Regions from separate parts of the Homo sapiens genome. Here all the other regions are linked to region 2. Evidence: fine-mapped expression QTL. A gene starts in region 2. Each other region holds a variant in brackets. All regions are shown on one strand. Distances are from middle to middle. Region 1 has its middle 33 kb from the start of LINC00544. Region 2 holds the start of UBL3 (ubiquitin like 3). Region 3 has its middle 18 kb from the start of LINC00544. Region 4 holds the start of LINC00544 (long intergenic non-protein coding RNA 544).

What was found. PIP is the estimated chance that this variant, and not a neighbour inherited with it, causes the effect. A credible set is the group of variants that fine-mapping cannot tell apart.
Region 1: its variant is the best candidate, but not a certain one, in a credible set for the expression of UBL3 in blood mononuclear cells (TOPMed, PIP 0.72).
Region 3: its variant is the best candidate, but not a certain one, in a credible set for the expression of UBL3 in whole blood (TOPMed, PIP 0.64).
Region 4: its variant is the best candidate, but not a certain one, in a credible set for the expression of UBL3 in whole blood (INTERVAL, PIP 0.51).

The regions. Positions count from the first base shown.
Region 1 is chr13:29,967,653-29,971,818 of GRCh38, reverse strand. No RefSeq gene overlaps it. Among named protein-coding and RNA genes, the nearest start is that of LINC00544, 33 kb to the right of the region's middle. The variant T/C (reference allele first, on the strand shown) is at 2,040.
Region 2 is chr13:29,848,551-29,852,716 of GRCh38, reverse strand. UBL3 (ubiquitin like 3) reads left to right here and starts at 2,100. Exons shown (of 5, transcript NM_007106.4): 1 at 2,100-3,205. The coding sequence starts at 3,179. RefSeq lists silencers at 1,945-2,054, 2,325-2,624 and enhancers at 2,185-2,254, 2,925-2,994, 3,465-3,534.
Region 3 is chr13:29,952,507-29,956,672 of GRCh38, reverse strand. No RefSeq gene overlaps it. Among named protein-coding and RNA genes, the nearest start is that of LINC00544, 18 kb to the right of the region's middle. The variant G/T (reference allele first, on the strand shown) is at 1,812.
Region 4 is chr13:29,933,982-29,938,147 of GRCh38, reverse strand. It overlaps LINC00544 (long intergenic non-protein coding RNA 544), which reads right to left and starts at 1,617. Exons shown (of 5, transcript NR_033889.1): 1 at 1,447-1,617; 2 at 867-946; 3 at 139-242. RefSeq lists enhancers at 2,184-2,303, 2,434-2,553, 3,274-3,333. The variant G/A (reference allele first, on the strand shown) is at 2,061.

The sequences.
Region 1 (4,166 bases), 120 kb before region 2:
GCACAGATGATTGTAGCATATAATTAAGTGAACTGAATGACAGAAATGTTATGAGTTGGGAAGGAGGAATTGGGATAGTCTGTTTTAAGGTAACTGAACTGTCCATGAAACAATGTAGTATTACTTGAAAGTGAACTTAGATTCATTGTAAACATACATTGTGAACTCTACGGTAACCACTTACAAAAAAATTAAAAGACATATAATTGATTTTCTAAGATAGAAAAGACAACAGAATCATATAAAAGGCTGCATTAAAAACATAAGCCTATTGAGTTTTAGCTCTTATTAACACAAAAGGCACAATCAATGAAAGAAAAGATTGTAAGTTGGACTTTATTAAAACTAAACACTTCTGCTCTACAAAATATGCTGTTAAGAGAATGAAAAGACAAGCCACAGATTTGGAGAAAACATTTGCAAGACACATATCTGATAAAAGACTTGTATCCAGAATATACAATTAACTCTTTAAGCTTTATAATAAGACACAAGCAATCTAATTTTAAAATAACCAAAAGATCTAAATAGACACCTCACCAAAGAAGCTATACAGATGGCAAGTAAGCACGTAAAAAGATGCTCAACTAGGGAAATGCAAATTAATCAATGAGATACATTACACACATTAGAATGACTAAAACTGAAAACACTTTTCAGTTAGCCAGGAGGGCTATGTTCTGTTGATCTCTTGCACAGCATGGTGACTATAGTTAACAATAACGTATTATATATTTCAAAATTGCTAAAAGAGTGGATTTTAAATGTTTTCACCATGAAGAAGTAACTATGTGAGGTGATGGATGTATCAATTAACCTGCTTTGATTATTCCACAATGTATACATGTATTGAACCATCACACCGAATCTTATAAATATATACAATTATTATTTGTCAATAAAAATGAAATATTTTTTTAAAAAACACTGACAATACCAAATGTTGGTGAGAATATGTAGCAACAAGAACTCTCATCCAATGCTGGTGGGAATGCAAAATTGTACACCCATTATGGAGGAGAGTTTGTCAGGCTCTTACAAATCTAAATATAGTCTTACTGTACAATCCAGGAACCACTTTCCTCAACAGTAATCCAACTGAGTTGAAAACATGTCCATACGAAAACCTACACGCATAAATGTTTATAGCAGCTTTATTCATAATCACCAAAAATTGAAAGCCAACAAGATGACCTTCAATAGGTGGATGGATAAAGAAATTAGTACATTCACACAATGGAATATTATTCAGTAATAAAAAAAATAAGCTATCAAGCCAAAAACTGACATGGAAGAAAGTCAGCTGCATACTGCTAAGTGGAAGAAGTCAGTCTGAAAGGTTGCATACTAAATAATTCCAACCATATGACATTCTGGAAAAGTCAACAGTATAGAGACAATAAAAAGATCAGTGGTTGCTAGGTATATGGGGGAAAAGGGAGAGGAATAAGTAGGTGAAGCACAGGGAATTTTTAGAACAGTGAAACTTTTCTGTATGATACCGTAATGGTGAATACATGACATCATGCATTTGTGAAAATCTATGGAACTGTAGAACACAAAGAGTGAACCTTAATGTAACTATGAACTTGTTAATAATAATGTATCAATGTTGGTTTATTTGTTTTTTGTGTGTGTGTGTGTGTGTTTTGTTTGTTTGTTTGTTTCTTGAGACGAAGTCTCACTCTGTTGCCAGGCTGAAGAACAGTGGCATGATCTCGGCTCGCTGCAACCTATGCCTTCTGGGTTCAAGCAATTCTCCTGCCTCATGCTCCTGAGTAGCTGGGACTACAGGCGTGTGCCACCATGCCCAGCTAATATTTGTATTTTTAGTAGAGATAGGGTTTCACCATGTTGCCCAGGATGGTCTTGATCTCCGCCCACTTTGGCCTCCCAAAGTTCTGGGATTACAGGTGTGAGCCACCGTGCCTGGCCTCAATGTTGGTTTATTAATTGTAACTATTGTACCACCCTAAGGCAAGATGTTAATAATAGGGGAAACTGTGTGTAGGAGAAGAGGATATAAGGGAACACTGCAC[T/C]ATCTGCTCAATTGGCCTGTAAATCTTAAATTATTCTAAAAATAACATCTATTGATTTTTAAAAATATAAAAAAAGTCAAGGACAGACAAAAACATTCAAGAAAATCAACTACAAAGTACGTTCAACAACAACAACAGTATGCCTGCTTTCAAATTCTTACTCATCCTCTCTGCAAACCACCTCAAATCCCATATTCTTGGCTGGGGCCTGGTTGTCCAATCTAGCTCATGCCAAAATCCTGTCTTGAAGCAGGGGAGTCATGCTTCAATTCTATGACTCAGAAGTTCTCCAAATGTAGTTGAGATAAAGCTTGTTAAGAATGTAGCATCCTGGACCTGAGGTCTAGTGATTCTGACTCAACGGGACTCTATAATCTGCATTTTCCTTAAGATCGTTAGTGACTCTGAGGTATCCTCTGAGGGTTGCTACAGCTGCTGATGGAGTGCTGCGGCGGTATGATGTTTTCTCACTAAAGTGAGTCTACCCTTTTGCTGGTTTCAAGAAGAGTTTTTTGAAAGTCCACTGCCATAATGCTTCCGAAAGATCAGATCTCTATACCTGCCTGAACTAAATCAATACATCTTTGCCTTTTGGGAATTAAACTTTCGGCCTCCCCTACAACTGGCCTTGCTGTGGTCCCATCACACATCAAGTCCAGACCTATGCAAATGATATTTATTTTGGTGATGGGATTGGTCATACTGAGGAGTGCCAGGAAAGACGTGAACACTAGACATTCATTCTGCAAATGTTTACCAAGTAACCTGCTACGTATCCCAGTGACTGGAGCCTTGTCTTTGCTCCCTCAGGACCCATTTTCTGGTTCTCCTGGGGACTATGTGTGTCAATGTAGTGCTGGAAGTTCTAGTCAGTGCAATAAGGCAAGAAAAGGAAATAAAAGATATAGATCAGGAAGAAAGAAGCAAAGCTGTCTCTATTTGCAGAAGACATAATTGTCTACGTAGAAAAATCTGGAGAAATCTACTGTATAGAATTGGTCCTAAATCTTTAAATGTCTAGTAAAATTCTCCAGTGGAACCATCTGGTCCTGTAAATTTCTTTTTTGGGAATACTTGACTTATGAATTCAATTTTCTTAATAGTTATATGACTATTTAAATTATCTATTTTATATTAACTTGTGGGAGTATGTGTTTTTTCAAGGTATTAGGTCATTTCATGTAAGCTGTCAAATTTATGTGTGTTTACAGTTGTTTATAGTATTCCCTTATATTATTCCATTAATACCTTTTTGATATCTGCAGGGTCTTGTTTCATTCCTGATACAAGTAACCTGTGTATTTCCCTTTTCCTCTCTGTCAGTTTTGCTAGAAGGGAATTTTTTTTGCCAATTTTACTGATATTCTTGAAGAGACAGCTGTTTGTTTCATTGATTTTTAAAAATTGTTTTTCTAGTTTTAATTTCATTGATTTTTGCTCTTGTCTTTATTATTTCCTTCTGCTTGCTTTAAATTTGTTTTGCTCTTCTTTTTTCTAGGTTCTTGAGACAGAAGCTTAGATTATTGATTTCAGACTTTTTCTCCTTTCCTAATGTATATATTCAGTGCTATGAATTTTCCTCTCAACACTGTTTTAGTTGTGTTTCACAAATTTTTATACGTTGTATTTTCATTTTCATTCAATATATTTCTAAAGTTCCCCTGAGACTCCCTCTTTGATTCATAGATTTAGAAGTGTGTTGTTTAGTTTCCGAATGTTTAATGATTTTTCTGTTATCTTACGGTTATGTCTAGTTTGATTCTATTATAGCTGGAGAACTCACTCTGCATGATTTCAATTCTTTCAAATTCCTTAAAGGTTTCTCTCATGGCCTAGGTGTTGTCTATCATGGTATATGTTTCATGAGCACTTGCAACAAATGTGTATTCTACTGGTATTAGGTAGACTCTTCTATAAATGTCATCAACCTGTTGGTCAATGATGTCATTGAGTTCTTACACATCTTGCTGGTTTTCTGCTGAATTGTTCTGTTAATTTTTCCAAGACAGACATCGAAGTCTCCAACTGTAATTGTGACTTTGTCTATTTCTGTCAGTTATTGCTTCACATAGTTTGAAGCCCTGTTGTTTACTGCATACACATTTAGGATTGCTGTGATTTCTTGGT
Region 2 (4,166 bases):
GGAAGCAAAGAGAAAAGAAAGAGTGGAAAAATCTGCAACTGTGTCCAATAATGTTACCTCATGCCTTAACAATGTTAGGGATGAGTTATAATGAGTTTTATTGAGAATAATGTCTCAGCCCCTCTTAGAAGAGTAATTGGAAACACAGCGACTTTTGAAAGACATTGCCTTTTGTAAAGGTGGCAGTGGTAACCTGCAGCAAACAGCAACTCTTGCCTTTCTACTTACAGTGGCACTTAGGCCCGGCAGTGCCATGGCCAGGCAGTGCCATGGCCAGGGAGGTCATTGGATAAAAGTTGGAGTCAAGGGTATGGTGGAGGGACTAACTCTGTGAGTTAGAGCTTTCAAAATGTGCTCCAATATTCCTTCTGAGCTCATTGGTCAATTGAAGTATTTTCACCTGCCCTTATTTCCTGGGGGGCTGGTGTAGGGGTAGGGGGACTCTGTGGTTGCTAAACATTGCAAATGAGCAACCAAGTAACAAAGGCCATGGAAAATCACGTAACTATGGACTTGGAAATATCTAGACAAAGTCCTGAAGCCTAATCACAGTGAGATTTGGGCCTCTCTTCTCTTCTGGCCTTTGGTTTTTCGGAGAATTTGATCTATCTTCCTCAGGGTGATATAGGCCCTTAGGAGTGTTTGGAATTTCTCCACCCAGGCTACTCAAGAGGCAGGTACTCTAAATGTCCTGTGGGTTTCCAACTGATGAGAAACCCAACTGGAGAGATTGCTGTGGGGAATCACGTAGGCTTCTAGACAATGAGCTCCCTGAGGACAGTGACTGGATTCTGCCTCTTTTCAACAGCCCTATAGACAAGGATGTAATAACCCCCATTGCCAACCCAAGACCTTGGCATTTCTGCCACATGATGCTGCTGTTCGCTACAGTGACTCATTTTTAAACTCCTAGTGCCTAGCAGAGTGCCTGGCACATTTGTTTGCTGAATGAGAGAATGAGTAGTGACATTTCATATCAAATGATGCATTATTATTTACAAAGTGATTTATTTCCCATGCATGAACTCATCCTCATAACTACCCCTACTTTACCCCGGAAGGTAGGCAAGACCATTTTACAGATGAGGTCACACAGCTGTAGGTTGGAGAGGTGGCTTTCAGACTCTAAATTCATTGGCATTTATATATAGGCATCATATTGAGACTGCCCTTTCTAAAGTACTCTGTCAAAGGACTAAGAGATATGAATAGGGATTCAGATGTTGACCTCAGATTTAGGAACAAAATGCAGAAATCACAAATGTCCATCTGAATGGTGTCTCAACAATGGCATTATTTTCTCCTATTTGCTAATCACTGCAAGGCATATAGGTTTTCAATTACATTATGAGTTACATAGAATAGAATTTAGGGTCCAGATGGGTAAACTGGTGAATCCCCATGAAGTTTGTAGTAGCTATTTCCTGATACAGATTTGATATAATAACACTGTTGTATGTAATACAGTTTTGGTAATTTCAGTTAAGTAGATTGTAGCTTTATTGCCCTGGGTCTTCAAGGAAACACATGTTCAAATATTCTCACTGCTTAATGAGATCCTTGTTCCTGTTGAACTTATGTGACCTTATTGGAAATCAATGATTGCTTTTGTTCTTCAAAATGTAATGTTGAGGAGACCTAGATGAAATCACTCTACAAAATGCATTGAGATTGCAGGATGTGGAGAATGTGCTGTAATTAAAATGAATGATTCTGCTTGGAGGTACAGCATATTTTAGCTCTGTGTGCATATCGTGCATAAGGGAATTTCTCTATGCAGAATTATTTTCTCCCAACAATTCTCATGATCACAGCACTCCTGGTAGCAGGTATCACTTAACTCCTGGGCAGCAGCTTGTCCAAAGCAAGGGAAAGGGAGCTTTCCTTTCCTCGCAACTGTTGCTATGGGGGGCGTGGCTTCGGAGCTGGGTGAGGAGGCGTTCGGCGGCTCCCTCCCCCCCCCACCCTCGTAGACTACACTTCCCGTGATGCTCGAGGGAATGGTCTCCGTGGTGACGCACTTGGTGTCCGCGGAGGGAGGACGAGGACGGGGGCGGCGGCTGCTGCGAGGGGGGGCCCGTGCTCTCCCCGTTTCCCTTAGTCGCACTCAGGCAGCCGCCGCCGCCGCCGCTGCCGCCATGTTGGTTTGAGAGGCGATGACAGGAGGCGGCCGCGGCGTGTGGGACTGAAAAGTGAAGGAGGAGGAGGAGAAACAAAGCTCTGAGAGGAAACCATTCCCGGGCTGAGGAGAAGGAGGACCCGGCCTCTTCCGGGGACCAGCCGAAGTCGGCGTCGCCCGGAGCTCGCGAGGCCGGGGAGGGGAGGGGAAGGGAAGGCGGAGACCGGGGAGGCGGCGGCGGGGAAGGCGGAGGCAGAAGAGGAGTGGCGAGGAGCCGGAGACGATGCGCCCCGACCCCAGCTGCTGTCCGGAGGCGCCCGCGGCCTGAGCCCAGAGGGGCTGTGGAGTGTCCCGGCCGGCCCCGAGCACCCCCGCGCTGTCGGTCCCCCGCTCCGGTCTTTCGCTTTGGCTTCCAACTAGTTAAATGCCCTTGAGCGCGGGTTTCCGCGGCCCGGCTCTTCGCCCCCGCGGCGCGAGTTGAGCCGTTTCCCCGCGCTGTCCGCGCGGGCGCTCCGACAGCGGCTCTGCAGGGTCCGCGGCCAGCGTCCGGCCACCGCTCGGCCGCCACTCAAGGCTCACGCGTCGATGTGTAGCTACATAGTTATCTGTGTACATCCACGCTGGGGCATTTTTCTCCTGCTTAATGAGGACTTGACTCGGGAGCAAGTGTGAATCATTGCCGGGGCTGGGAAAGGAGGAAGGCGCATTTAACCCCCTCCCACCCCTCTCCATGTCCGTGTGTCACTCGGCTCGGTCCACCTGGCGCGGCCGGTCCTGGGGCTGCTGCTGCTGTTGACGACGACGACGACGACGGGGGCTGCCTCTGCTGTCCCGGGAGTTTCCTCCTGCTCCGGCCACACAGCTCCTGGGGATTGTTCCTCTTCGAACCAGAACCTCGGCCTGACCGGCACTTTGGCTCCAAAATAACTTTATTTTTGGGGGAGAAAGCACATCACGAACCAGTCAAAATCGTGGTTTATTTCTGTAACGTGAAGACTTCTGCTCTTTTTTCTTTGTTTGTTTTTTTCGTAAACATCTGGGTGTATATCAAACGGCAAGATGTCCAGTAATGTCCCGGCGGATATGGTAAGTGACGGATAAGTTATGACACTGATTTAATTGTGGTTTCCAATCTTATTTAATCGGAAAGACGGCAGGCGTGGGGCGAAGATTTGCTGGGGACTGTCGAAAAGCCACTGTGCTGAGCGATTTGGAGAAGTTGGAGCTTCTGGTTTCCCCCTTTTAGGAAGTACTGCTTTTAATATGGGTTCTCTCATTTGGTCGTGTTTTCTAAAGCATTGAAGATAGTGGAGAAGTAGGGAAATGTATCATGGTAGCTTGAGGGGACAAAACATCTCCCTCTTCGCTAGAAGCCTCCGAACACTAGTATTTTAACGTTTCTGAAAACGTCAGGGACAGTGGGCAGAGCTGAGGACGGGTGTCCCTACGAGAGAATAGGTAGGGAAACGGGAATCTTGCTTTATGACACAGACGAGATCGTCATTGCAGTAGGGACGAACTTGATATTTTTCAAGAACAGGGATGCACATCTCTTCAAGAAAAAGTATGTTAGAATTTGCTGTGAGGTTTTTGAAATGTCTGAATACGGATGGCAACAGAAATATAAAGATATTTTGGGATTTTCAGAAACGTAGGCTGACCCTGTATTGGTACTTACAATGAATATTCCAGGGCTTTTTAATGCCAGATATTTATTAATAGTAGATTCCATATTAGACATAAAGCTAAGGAAACATAGTATTGAGCCTCGATCACTGAGTGTTGAGAACTTGAAACAAAAAGTACTGTTGTTTATTGACGCCTTTCTTTGTTTTGTTTATAAAGGGTAAGGTTGTGAGTCGGTTGACTAACAGTAACCGTGTAACCTTACAGTGCTGGGGCTGGGCTTGTGTGAGTGTGAAGTTACATTTTGCAGTCCTAAGGACAAACATAATGCATTTAATTACCAGGAAGAGGAATAATCCTGTTTATGAAAGAATTGAAGTTAACGTAGTTGTGCTCACATATGTTAACATTTGAGTGTTTG
Region 3 (4,166 bases), 100 kb before region 2:
TTTTACCTTTCTTGTCTGAGGATATGAGTTGAAATGAATCCTTTAGTGAGAAGGTGACTCGATTTACATGCAGAATTTCAACGCTTTCAAACCTCTCTTGTTTGTGAACCTGTTGGAAAGCACTGATGGCCATGCAGGCAGCAGGTGTAGAGAGTGATCCTCTCAACGCTTGGTAGCTGAGAACAATTCATATTTATCATACTGGCTTTGGTCAAGTCAAGTGTGAATGGTGTTTGACTGTACTCATTTTACTTTTTTTTTTTTTTTTTTTTTTGAGATGGAGTTTTGCTCTGTTGCCCAGGCTGGAGTGCAATGGCACAATCTCAGCTCACTGCAACATCCACCTCCTGGGTTCAAGTGATTCTCCTGTCTCAGCCTCCTGAGTAGCTGGGATTACAGGTGTACACCACTATGCCCAGCTAATTTTTGGTGTTTTTAGGAGAGACAGGATTTCACCATGTTGGTCAGGCTGGTCTTGAACTCCTGACCTCAGGTGATCCACCCACCTCGGCCTCCCAAAGTGCTAGGATTACAGGCGTGAGACACCGCACCTGACTTTTTTAACATAAAAAAAGTGCTTAAAGCTTGGATCAACTCCTCTTCTGATTGATCAGTATTTCTGGGCATAGTGTTTTTTGTTTGTTTGTTTGTGTTTATACTTGTTATCTGGATATGTTTTGGGATCAAATAAATACCAAATCACAGAGGTTATCGAATAGAGTTCTTTAAAAAAATATTTTCACAGCCGGGCCAGGTGGCTCATGTCTGTAATCCCAGCACTTTGGGAGGCTGAGGTGGGTGGATAAAACCTGAGGTCAGGAGTTCGAGACCAGCCTGGCCAACATGGTGAAACCCCATCTCTACTAAAAATAAAAAAACTTAGCCGGGCATAGTGGTGGGCACCTGTAATCCTAGTGACTTGGGAGGCTGAGGCAGGAGAATCACTTGAACCCAGGAGGTAGAGGTTACAGTGAGCCAAGATCACACCACTGCACTCCAGCCTGGGAAACAAGAGTGAAACTCCGTCTCAAAAAATATATATATATACTTTCACATCTCCATTGGAAATTTTTAAAAGAAACTTTTTTTTTCTGTTTAATTGATGCCAGGTACTCAACTCCCAATGCCATCACTCCCACCAATGCAGACTCAGAGGAAGAGTTGCAGGAAGCAGGGATCCTACTGGTCTTTCTGTCACTATAACCCAGCCCTGGCATGGAGCCTAGCACATGGTAGGGGCTCAAAGGACATTTGCTGAATGCATGAGTGAGTAAGTCAGCTGAGGGTGCCATGGAGGGGGCTAGAGGACGCTGTGCTGCAACCAAGAGCTCAGGGCATCCTGCTGTCCTTGGAGCAGAGGGAGGTTTTGCTGGGACAACAGAAGACCAGAGAAAGTGAAAATCACACTTTGTTCTTGCCCAGATATCTCAACCCCTCTGCCATCCAAAAATCACATTTCTGTTTGGTATACTAAATGTTTATTGAAACTTTTGCTATATGTAGACTCTATGTTAAACTCTAGGGATACCAAAATAAACAGGACATTTTCTCTACCGGCAAAGATCTCTCAGTATGGTAAGAAAAAGAATGATTTTTTAACTAAAAGGTTATACCTCCATGTGTTACATTTTGGACTAAGCTGAAGCAATATTTTATTTTTTTAAATCAGGTAGATGAATCAGTTTGAATTGCCATTCTGTGTGTCTCTCTATTTCCTAAATATTTTGCGCTGAAATAGCACAAGAACAGCGGCACATTCCCACAGACGGCCCCTGACGGGACTGTGTTTGGGCCGAGTCCATATTTCCTCC[G/T]TCTCTTGCATCATTTGTTCTTTGCCCTTTGCAAATCTCAGCACCATTTCCTCCAGAGCAGCTCCTGGAATTTTCGATGGGAGCTGTCACCTGGAACCAGCGAGCTTTCTCTTTCATACCTGTCATAGAAGGAGCTCACTTCTCACGAAGACCCGCCCATTTTACCCCCGACCCCGCTGTGACGTTAGGGAAAGTTTCCTTCTCTAGAAGTGTCTAGAAACATGCTTGGCTTTAACTAATGCATCTAGAGTGTCCCATCTGTTTAACAGCACTTTGCTCAAGGAGCCCACGTACTTGTGTTCCACTTCCTGCCTTGGCGACAGTCTCCGCAGGACAAGCCCGGCCCATCGCAGAAGCCCCGTGTCCTGTAGATGAATGAGAACTTAGACAGCTAACATTCTACCTGATGCTGGAACTCAAGGTCCTTGACAAATGACCATGTAGCTTACATTCTGAGAAGTGACAGTGACCTCTCCATTGTTGGAGAGTGCCATTTCCAATTCTGAGCACTTTAGTTTGTTAGAAAGCTTTTTTCAGCAAGTTGTTTTCGTCTATTGAACTCAAAATCAACCTCCTTGCCACTTCCTTCCTTATTTACTTCCTCTGTCTTTCCCTTGACATTTACTCACTCTTTGCTCCTCTTCTGTCTTGTCCTAAAATAAAACCGATTTATTCCTTCGTCCTCACAACACCTCCTCCAATATTTGAAGACAGGAAGATAGTTCCTTGTTTTCTCTCTTCCAAGCTAAACACACTCAGAGCCTCCGGCCAGCCTAGATCAGGAACCGTTTCTAAAGCCCTCAGCACCTCCACCCTGCCTTTCTAAATGAGACATCTTAATTATAATGCCTTGTAGCGAACATTATTTTCCAATTATCATCTGACCAGCATATAGTGTTACTGTTACTTATTATCTGGACACGGTATTTTTATTTAATGGAGCTTACAATTACATTCGCTTTTTAAAGCGACTGCATTACTCTGTTGGATCACATGAGCTTTTGGCCGAAGAAAAAGTCCAGATATTTTGAAAACAGAACTGATGGCAATTAAAGCAGATCTCCCCCGTTATGCCATTGCGCAATCAATTTCTGGACCTAAATGTGTTGGTACAATACCAGCTATATTGACGTAAGGGTATTCTTCAGAGTCATCCCAAGCTAGTTTCTGGCTTGTCACTGGAACCCAAGCTCTACCTCTGTACCCGGTGCCTGCCCACTGGAATGTAAGGTCCTCAGTTTCAGCAGCCCAGCTTGGGTTGAGACAACATCTCTGCTTTTTTTTTTTTTTTTTTTTTTTGAGACAGAGTTCTGCTCTTTCGCCCAGCCTGGAGTGAAGTGGTGCAATCTCAGCTCACTGCAACCTCTCCCCCACCACCCCATCAAGGGTTCAAGTGATTCTCCTGCCTCAGCCTCCTGAGTAGCTGGGATTATAGGCACCTGCCACCATGCCTGGTCAATTTTTGTATTTTTTTTTTAGTGGAGATGGAGTTTTGCATTGTTGGCTAGGCTAGTCTCGAACTCCTAATCTCAGGTGATCCCCTGGCCTCAGCTTCCCAAAGTGCTAGGATTACAGGCTCTGCTTCTTTTTTAATTTTACCTAGTACCAAGCACAAACTGTGGAAGAAGTCAATTCCTAATTAATATTTGTTGAATGGCTGAATGAATGCATCGTATGAGGCTTTACTAACAACAGTTGTTTCCCAGAACGAGCTAAGATTGCCATGAAATGCATAGACTCCTTGCATGCTTTATGTTGTATTTCTTTAGATTTTTTTCTTAAGAAAACCATGGATTCATTCTAGTCATGGAAAACCCCCATACTTCCCAGAGAACTTTGAGCAATTTTCTCTTTAAAGAAAGGGGTGACCCATTTACTGTACTCATCATTATAGTTTAGTTGCTAGAGTTACTTTCTAAGCACACCAGGACAAGAATATTATCTTTCTGATATGTTGGCATAAAAAACGATGTTGAGAAAAGCACATAGACCATCATCACATCCCTTGGCACCAGCAATTTCTAAGCAGTATGGCCAGAGCCATTGCTGTGAGTAGGTTTTTCCTGGCTGAGACCAACCAGGCCTGGGGAAAATAACTTGCAAGTTATCTAAACCAGCAAATACTTGCAAGAAGGTAACAGGAGGGCAGATTTTGTTGTCCATTCCTATATCCATCATTGTCAAAGCAATTATTTTTAAAGATCGTGTGGCTTCTACTACAATCACTCTAACCTACTGCCACTGAAGGAATTGGTATTACGGATGTTCTCCTGAGACCTATAGTCTCTGTTTCAGCCTTTGGAGACTTTGAATGAAAAAAAAAAAAATTCAAAGAAAGGCTGGGTGGAGCAATGT
Region 4 (4,166 bases), 85 kb before region 2:
ACCCAACTGGCAGATGTGCTTGTTGTGCTGAGAGAAATTCACAGAACCTTGTGGTGCCATCTGGCTGAGAGCTGACTGTTTGCATGATGCAGTTCTCACTTAAGGAGGTGAAGCATCAAACTCCCTGGCCCCACCCACCTGCCTCTGCATCTGGGCAGCTGAAGGTAAGGGCACTCAGCAGCCCCGATGTAATGCCACATCCCAGTGTGCTCAGGAGGAAGCCACCAATCTTTGTTCTCTGCCTAAGGAAAGAAAAACAGCTAAAACAAAGCATTCTAGGACTGACCTTTGGTACAATGTTGGAAATATGAAAGAAATATAAATGTAACATTTTAAATTTCTGAAACGAGGAATAATTATCAATTTCATATACACAAAGTAAGCCCAGTAGGCAGGCCTACTAGAGCAGTGGTCTCCAAATTTTTTGGCATTAGGGACGGGTTTCATGGAAGACAATTTTTCCACAGATGGGGTCCGGGGGATGATTTTGGAATGAAACTGTTTTGCCTCATCCTCAGGCATTAGATTCTCATAAGAAGCACCCAACCTAGAGCCCTCACTTGCGCAATTCACAATAGAGTTCACGCTTCTATGAGACTCTTATGCTACCGGCTGATCCGACAGGAGGCAGAGCTCACGTGGTAACGCTCACTTGCCCACCGCTCACCCCCGGTTGTGTGGCCCGGTTCCTAACAGGCCACAGACTGGGACTGGGACCTGCCCGAGGCTGTGGGGTTGGGGATCCCTGTGCTAGAGGCTCTCAGAAGCATTCTCCATCTCCAGATAATATTCTGTCCCTCCACATGTGAAGGAGACACAGAGCTTTCCTGATGGAGCCTGGCAGGTCTGTCTGTCTTTATACACACCCATTGTATAGAGAAGTATTCTGGATCCAGGGTATATCATGATCATTGTCAATTTTCAGAACATCTCCTGGGCTGGTGAACTGTGGTTAGATAATAAAGAGTTGCTGGTGAAATGCCTCAGGGTGTGGTTAGAAAAAAGAAAGAAAAACAAGTGGTAATATAGGGTGCGGGGGGAGGTATGGGGAGGCTGGGTAACTGTGATTTTTAACTCAAGAAGGAAAAAGGGAGAGGAGAAAAAATGAAGACTCTATAGCTCATCTAGAGTGAGCCAAATTGGATCCCAAACACTAACACTTAATGCACTAAAAACTGTATAATTCAAACATCTCTCAACACAGAAGATGGGTACCACGTGTGTAACAAAACATAATTGAGCTGAGGTGAATCCCTGTCCTTAAAAGAGGTTTATAAGCTAATAGTGGTGATGAAGGTGAGGAAGACTCTTAGTTCCACTCAGAAAGTGAGAGGATCTGAATACTCCAGAAAAGGAAAAAGATAAGAGGAGAGATGAAATGAGATTGGCAAATTGTTGATGATTGTTGAAACTGAGCAATGAGTATTGAAAGGCAGGGATCATTACCTGACTCTTCTATCCAGGAGGCCGTTAGTGGACCAGGAAGTCAGGACAAGATCTGAGGTGAAGAGCTGGTGAGGAGTGAGACAGCTGCCAAGGTCCACCTTGTTCCCCTAAGGAGCTGAGCTCTTTCTCTTCCTTCCTTTTAGACAGGTTCATTAAAGCTGGCCCACTCCACATGACCTAGAAGGACTGGGTCAACCCTGAAAGGTTTGCTCCATAGCCCAGAATGACAACCTCTGACATCACAAATGCAGGATTGGAGAAGGCATAGTTGGCATGCAAGCCGTATTGATTTTTTTACAAATCAGAGCTTCATGCTTGCTGCTGAGAACATTTCACCGGGCCACGAAGCTGCTGCAGGAAGTTTTCAAGTCCTCTCCTCTACACCGTGACCTTAACTTAGAGAGCACTCTCAGCCCCTCCTCCCATCCCCCCGCACCTGCCCAGGTGGGCCCCACTGCTCTCCACACCCACACCCACCTGGTCGTTGCTCTCTACCGAGGAGGCTCTCCCTGCTTTGCTGTGCTTTTGTCAACTTTCCTGCAGCTTCCCTGTTCTGGGAGGCTGAGCTAGAGTGGAAACGACCAGCTTCCCCAAACAGGCAGCTCCGAGAAGGC[G/A]TCTGCTCCGCGTCTGCTCCCACTGAGCCAAGGTCCAGCCCAAACGCTCAAATTAGAGCTTGTTAGCCAATTGCTGAAAAACTGCAGGGGGACTCATTTGTAAGCAAACTAATGAGACATCCCAGGATAGAAAGCCTGGTTTTATTTTTAGCATTTCAGAGCTGACACCCCAAACACCTCTATAACCACCTGCCAGTCTGAAGAGGGAACAAGCAGAGCTCAGGATGTGGTGCCGTGCGAGGGCGGTAAGTGGAAGGAAGCAGCGCATGGGGAGGGTGCCTTGGAGACCAGAGGAGCACAGCAAGGGGAGGATGCTCAGCTCTCACACCTGCTCTGTCTTGGTCATAATGAAAAAACAGCTCTGACACAGGGAGTGTGTCAGAACACCACAGTACCCTCTGGGACTGTGTGGGAAAACAAAAAACAAAAACCAAAACAAGGGAGACTCCTTCCCTCTTAACCTCAAATGGTCCCTCTTAACTCCAGACCCTTGAGCGTCTTGCTCCGCCACTGCATGGGGCAGGTGCAATGTACTCTGTGATCTGTGATCTCCTTGCTATATTCCTGGCAGGGGCTCTGCTACTGTGGGCTTTCACAGCATGACTCCAGCCTTGCTGCACTCAGGCCTCACTGTCACCAAGTGGGCTGGGGCTGCCCACCAGGGGGGCATGCAGGGCCTTTCCCTCTCCCCATGCCCTGGTCTCAGGTACACTGCTGCTGCATGCCAGCTCTTTTCTGCTGCATCCTATGCAGCCACTGGGCCACTTGCTCCTCCCAGGCAAATGCTGAAGAGACACTCTGCTCTTCAGCAGATTGGTGCACACCTATATTTAGCCACATTGTGGAATATAGTGACAATGATACTTTGTACTCAGGAGACACCTTTTATCAGAGGAGTGTGATGCACTCTGCAAACATCATCAGCACGGCACCCTTGGGGAGGAAAGACTGTGCCAAGTCTTCCAATCCCCAGGCTTACAGCTAGAGAGATTGAAGCCAGGGAGGCGGGGTGTCACCAGAATCTCCTAATGAGTCAGGAGGCCTGAACGGAGTGATGAGGTGCTCCTGGAAGGTTTTCATCACACCTGCCTCTTTCTGAGCCTGCAGAGCCTATAGTTCCCCCTAGAGCTGGTCCTCTCTCCCTCCCTGGCACAAAAGTGTTCCTTTGCTCACACAGCTGTCCCTGTGCCTGGACACACTTGTAACTTGACTTTAAAAGCCATCTGCCAGCTCACTAGAAACACAGACATGCTGTCTGTGCTGGGGCTTACATTTGCATCACCGCGGTACCTCGATGCTCAGGACAGATATTTCTACTCAAATCTATACCTTGCCTGAATGGAGCTATGAGGGTGTGACCCAGAGGAAGTGCTGTGAAACTCTGCATAAAGAGATTAGTTCAGATGCCCTCTCTTTTATGACACAGGGTAACCAATCAGATACTCCACTTCCCAGAAGTGGCTGGACACAGACTGCCCTGTAGTAGAGAGACAAAGCAGTGGGATGAGTGGGTCCTACGTAGGGATCCTCAGGGATTCCTTGGGCACAAGCAGGATCTCTCTTCTCAGAAAGAGCCAACAATACCATATGTTAGAAGCTCAAAACCAACTGTATTCTTTTCATTCTGTTATCACTGATAATTACTAGCATGCCTTTGTAGCAGATGCAACGGATGTGGCAACATTTCTCATGCCTTAGCAAGGCCGAAATGGCAAAAAGCAATGCTAACCAAAGGGTCTTTGGATAGAGAGTGTTCTGTGTAGGGGTAGAACAGTGCTTTGGTTCTGGACACAGGCTTTATATTCCCCAGACCCCAATATAAACCCCACTACATACCCTGTGCCACAACTGATGATTGACATGACTTCATAGTGAGGCGCAGTCTATGTCCTCCCTCCTCAAACCCAAGCAGATATTTGCAAATTCCTGTACCACTAGCTTATGGTGGACATGATGGGGTGTGACTTCCAAGACTAGAGTATAAAAGGCAATACCACGTCCATCTTGGCACCTTGCATTGCTCCCATGGCGAAGCCAACCTCCACGCCCTACACTCAGCAGCTCTGTTGGATAAGCCTGTGTGGAGAGAACAGAGACCTCCAGCCT